Linked DNA regions of Homo sapiens: region 1 is linked to region 2. The links come from fine-mapping of genetic effects on gene expression. A gene starts in region 2. The other region holds a variant in brackets. All regions are shown on one strand. Distances are from middle to middle.

Region 1 (2,911 bases), 55 kb before region 2:
GGGCTGGTTACCCATGGTTACATGGTGTGCTCAGTCTGTCATCTGATCCATACTTACTGGGTATTTGTGAGTTTCTTTGTGAGTATGTTGTACTTCAATAATTTTTTTTTTGAAACTGGGTCTCTGTCGTCCAGACTGGACTGCAGTGGCTCAACCATGGCTCACTGCAGCCTTGACCTCCTGGGCTCAAGCGATCCTCCCACCTTAGCCTCTTGAGTAGCTGGGACTACAGGTGCACACCATGGCACTTGGCTATATATATATATATATATATATATATTTTTTTTTTTTTTTTTTTAAAGAGATGGAGTCTTGCTATGTTGCCAAGGCTGGGTCTCGAACTCCTGGGCTCTAGTGATCCTCCAATCTTAGCCTCTCAAAGTGCTGGAATTACAGGCATGAGCCACCGAGCTTGGCAATAATTTTTTAAAAGGCCGGTTTTTTGTCTCTTGAAAGTGCAGGAGTCTTGGCAAGTCTAGCAAATGGCATATACTATTTTGTTTCTCTTCCCTCCCCTTTCAAGTGAGAATTGTGATTGTTTTCTTGTTTTTCCTCCACTGTTATACACAGGGGTGGGTTGCTGAGGGGGCTACAATTTCATTTAACATTAATTTTTTTTTTAGATGGAGTCTTGCTCTGTCACCAGGCTGGAGTGCAGTGGCACAATCTCCACTGACTGCAACCTCCGCCTCCCAGGTTCAAGTGATTCTTCTGCCTCGGCCTCCCGAGTAGCTGGGATTATAGGTGTGTGCCACCATGCCGGGCTAATTTTTGTACTTTTAGTAGAGACAGGGTTTCACCATGCTGGCCAGGCTGGTCTTGAACTCCTGACCTCAGGTGATCCACTTGCCTTGGCCTCCCAAAGTGCTGGGATTACAGGTGTGAGCTACCGTGCCCAGCCTTAACATTAATTTTCAGGATCAAGAGAGACTCCATGTGCCCTTGATGAAAGGAATAGCCAATATCCAGAAATCTTGGTCTGAGGATTGGATGTGGCTTTGGGATCCCTCCCTTTGCAGAAGGGGTGAAAGCTTCTGCAGTTGCACTAGAGATAGTTATGTTAGGTGGGAGTATTAGTTTTAGCCAACTTTATCAAAATATAATTTGTGTACAAGAAAATGGATCAATATTTCAAAAAGATATTTGCAACCCACTTTCATAGCAGCATTATTTACAATACCCAAAAGGTAAAGGAGGCAACCCAGCTGTTCATCAACAAATAAATGGTTCGACAAAATGTGGTATATACACATAATGGATTTTTTTTTTGAGATGGAGTCTCGCTCTGTCGCCCAGGCTAGAGTGCAGTGGTGCGATCTTGGCTCACTGCAACCTCCGCCTCCCAGGTTTAAGTGATTCCCCTGCCTCAGCCTCCCAAGTAGCTGGGACTACAGGCGCCTGCCACCACGCCCGGCTAATTTTTTGTAGTTTAGTAGAGATGGGGTTTCACCATGTTGACCAGGATGGTCTCGATTTCCTGACCTCGTGATCCGCCTGCCTCTTCCTCCCAAAGTGCTGGGATTACAGGTGTGAGCCACTGCACC[A/T]GGCCCATAATGGAAAATTATTTAACCTTAAAAAGGAAGGAAATGCTAACACATGCTACAACATGGGTGAAGCCTGAGGACATTCATGCTAAGTGAAACAATCCCATCACAAAAAGACAGATGCTGTATGATTCCACTTACATGAGGTACCTAGAGTAGTCAAATTCATAGGGAATTTCCCAGAGAGTAGAACGTGCTTCCCAGGGGCTGGGAAGGGAAGGCAGTGGGAGTTGCTTGATGGGAACAGTTTCAATTCTACAAGAGGAAAGAGTGGAGATGAGTAGGGGTGATGATTGCACAACAATGCAACTGTACACTTAAAATTGGCTAAGTCCTGGGAAAGTGGCTCATGCCTGTAATCTCAGCTACTCTGGAAGCTGAGGCAGGAGAATCGCTTGAACCGGGGAAGCAGAGGTTGCAGTGAGCCAAGACCATGCCATTGCACTCCAGCCTGGGCATTGCAGCGAGACTCCGTCTCAAAAAAAAAAAAAATTGGCTAAGATGGTAAAGTTTGTGTTATGTGTATTTTGCAACAATGTACAAGAATTTAAATGAACCAATTTTAAACGCAATGAATTTTGACAAATGTATTCGGTTGTGTGATCACTTCCATCATCCGGAAAGTTTTCCTGTGTCCACTAGTAATCAGTCTCTCCATAACCACTGCCACTGCCCCCAGTCAACCACTAATCCATTTTCTGCCCCTGCGTATTAGCCTTTTCTTTTCTCTTTTCTTCTCTTCTCTTCTTTTCTTTTCTTTTACTCTGTCACCCAGGCTGGAGTTCAGTGGTGTGATCTCAGCTCACTACAACCTCCGCCTCCCAGGTTCAAGCCATTCTCCTGCCTCAGCCTTCCAAGTAGCTGGGATTACAGGCACTCGCTACCACACCCGGTTAATTTTTGTATTTTTAGTAGAGATGGGGTTTTACCATGTTGGCCAGGCTGGTCTTGAACTCCTGACCTCGTGATCCACCTGCCTCGGCCTCCCAAAGTGCTGGGATTACAGGGTGAGCCACCGTGCCTGGCCTCTGGCCCCTTTCTTTCTTTCTTTCTTTCTTTCTTTCTTTCTTTCTTTCTTTCTTTCTTTCTTTCTTTCTTTGTGTCTCTCTCTCCTTCCTTCCTTCTCTCTCTCTCTCTCTCTTTCTTTCTTTCTCTCTTTCTTTTTTGAGTTGGAGTCTCACTCTGTTGCCCAGGCTGGAGTGCAGTGGCATGATCGGCCCACTGCAACCTCCGCCTCCCGATTCTCCTACTCAGCCTCCCAGGTAGCTGGGATTACAGGTGCCAGGCTGCTTTTGAACTCCTGATCTCAAGTAATCCGCCTGCCTCAGCCTCCCAAAGTGCTAGGATTACAGGCGTGAGCCACCATG
Region 2 (2,911 bases):
TGCAATGGCGCGATCTCGGCTCACTGCAACCTCCAGCTCCTGGGTTCAAGCGATTCTCCTGCCTCAGCCTCCTGAGTAGCTGGGATTACAGGCCCCCGCCACCACGCTCAACTAATTTTTGTATTTTTAGTAGAGACTGGGGGTTCGAGGAACTCCTGGCTGTAAGTGATCCCCCCCGCCAAGGCTTCCCAAAGTGCTGGGATTACAGGCGTGATCTACCGTGCCCAGACCTTGAGCGGTTTTCATAACAGACTGTGAAAGACGGTTCACACCTTCACCCTGACAACCGCCGCCCAAGGCGACGCACCCTTTGCCGAAGTCGCCCCCACTTGCATTCCGTCACCTCTCAGGAAGGACCGAGCCCGCAAGTCCCTCAGCCCCAGCGTCTCCGTACCTCGGGATTGTAGTCGGCCGCGTCAACAGACGCAACCCCAGCCTCAAGGGAGCGGGAGATTCAACTCCCCGCACACGCGCCTCCTCGCAGCGACTTCCTGTGCGCGAGAAGCTTCTCTGAGCGGCTGCACCCAGGATCCTCCGCGGCAGCGCCAGGACTCTATTTCCCAGAGGGCTGTGCGGGCGACTTCTTTCGCCTTCCCATCTCCTCCTGCTTCTTCAGCCTTAGCACTGTGGGAGTAGAGTAGAAAGAGAATCAGGACCAGGCGGCATCAGTTTGTAGTCCAGATTTTTACCTTGTTAAAGAATCATCTAATTAGCTTCTTGCCTTTACTAGAAGTCAGGGAGTGTTAACCTTTTCCGAAGAGCAAGCGGTAGGTTGCCATGGAAACGCGTTGTGACGGGTTTCTGAGAAAACAAGCGGAAGTAAGGGGCGGAGTTGAGGCAGAAGTTTAGGTAATGTGACCTCTGATTGGTGGAGAGGTACCTCACGGTGCATTCCGATTGGTCTGACACTGACACATGCGCAGTAGAACCAGAAGGCGTTCCAAAGCGGCTAGAACGGAGGGGAGGGGGATGAGCAATGAGGGAATAATCCCCATTCCGTCTGGAATCAGAGGGCGGGCCTGCCGCGGAGGCATCTGGGAAACGGAGTTCCCAGGCAGGCGAAGCCCAGGGGCCGTCAGGAAGTCAGCGGCGCCTGCGCGGGCGCCTCAGATTCAGGATGCGCGCGCAGCGCTCTCCGCCCAGCGGAAGTTTTCGCTGGGCAACTGAGAAGGTGAGTCCGGGTAACTGCGGAGGATCCGAGGGTCAGGCTGCAGAAGCCCAGAATCCCACCCCAGTCCCCAAGTACAGAGGTGAGGGGAAGCGAGGCGAACGAGGGGACGTCCCCCGACCCCCTAGCCGCAGCTCGGCCGGGGCGTCCGTGACGTCAGCACGACCGTTTGTGGGAGGCGGAGGCCCCTGCTGTCGGGGTTCGGAATGAGAGCGGCTCCGGGTCGCGGGGTTCACTGGCCTCCTCTTGAGCTTCCCAAGCCACCTTGGGCTCCGTGTTGGGCATGGCTAAGGCGGAGATGGGCGGAACTTGTGGGAAGTTCGACAGCTCCTCCGCTGTGAAACTTGGCGTCTAAGTCATCCCGTGGTTTCTATGGAGGTGCGGCCGAAGGGAGGCTCTGTCGTCGCCTAGGCAATCGCCCCACCTGCGCTGAGGTGGGGTCTGACTTTTAGCCTTTTTGCTGTGCTGTTTCCTGAACTTTCTAGGAGGAACACTATACAGTAGTTGACGCATAGCAGCTGTTCCCTAAACATTTGTTGAATAAGTCAAATAAATTAAGATAAAGACTGGCCTGAGGGTTGGAGTCTTAGGGTTTCAAGTCCTGACCTGGCCATTGCATAGGTGACTTCAGCACATCCAATTTTATTGAGCGTTTACTATATGGAAGGCTCCGTGCAACCGATATTACACTACTATAACCTGGGTTTGAACGGTGCTAGTCTAATAGGCACTGTTCAAGCCCAGGTTATTATAGCAGTGTCTAAAACAAAAATCCTGCCCAGCTAATTCACATTCTCAGGGTGGTTGGGGATGCCAGACACTAAAAAAGAAATGTTAAAGAATATTTACAGGTCTGCAGTCCCTTATCTATAACTTTAAAATCCAAAACGTTCTGAAAACTGAAAGGTCTTTTTCTCTGTTTTGCAACTTACTTGGCAGGCCAACCTCACCTGGCTTTGAACTTGTTTGCTGGCAATACCCACTCTGAACTGATGTGTGACTATTTAGAATTTTTAAAGATTTTGTTGTGCAAATCATATACTTATGGAGAGTTGCCCCTGGATCTCGCCGGTGTTGTAATATGTAATAGGTTCTAAAATCCAAAAAATTTGGCTGGGCACGGTGGCTCCCGCCTGTAGTCCCAGCACTTTAGGAGACCGAGGTGGGCGGATCACCTGGGTTCAGGAGTTCGAGACCAGCCTGGCCAACATGGTGAAACCCCATCTCTACTAAAAATAAAAAAATTAGCCGGGCATGGTGGCATGCGCCTGTAATCCCAGCTACTCGGGAGGTTGAGGCAGGGAGAATCGCTTGAACCCAGGAAGCGGAGGTTGCAAGTGAGCTGAGGTCGTGCCACTGCTCTCCAACCTGGGTGACATAGCAAAACTCTGTCCATCATGCAATACATGGCAGAAGCAAGATCCAAACCCAGGCAGATTATTTCCCAAGTTTATCCTCTTAACCCCTGTACTGATCTGCTTCTAAGTGGCACGTCTTTTTTAGGGACCATCCAGCTAGATAATTCCGGCCCTGAGCTTTGAGTCTCTGGCTGGATGTCTAGATTTGCCTGAGAGATGAATGTGTACTGACACAGCTGGGGACCCCCCCCACCCACCTTCTTGGCACATTTTCTTTTGCAAAGGAGACAATGATTTATTCACTCAGCAGACGTAGACCCAGCATTTGCTCTGTGCCAGGCCTGTTTGAGGCTCTGGGCACACTGTGGCAAACAAGGCAGGGAAA

Evidence for each region. PIP is the estimated chance that this variant, and not a neighbour inherited with it, causes the effect. A credible set is the group of variants that fine-mapping cannot tell apart.
Region 1: its variant is the best candidate, but not a certain one, in a credible set for the expression of VRK3 in T cells (TOPMed, PIP 0.78).

Annotation. Positions count from the first base shown.
Region 1 is chr19:50,078,130-50,081,040 of GRCh38, reverse strand. No RefSeq gene overlaps it. Among named protein-coding and RNA genes, the nearest start is that of SNAR-A4, 13 kb to the left of the region's middle. The variant A/T (reference allele first, on the strand shown) is at 1,545.
Region 2 is chr19:50,023,606-50,026,516 of GRCh38, reverse strand. It overlaps VRK3 (VRK serine/threonine kinase 3), which reads left to right and starts at 1,145. Exons shown (of 15, transcript NM_016440.4): 1 at 1,145-1,250. It overlaps ZNF473 (zinc finger protein 473), which reads right to left and starts at 512. Exons shown (of 5, transcript NM_015428.4): 1 at 395-512. RefSeq lists enhancers at 359-408, 819-868, 1,209-1,288, 1,338-1,839.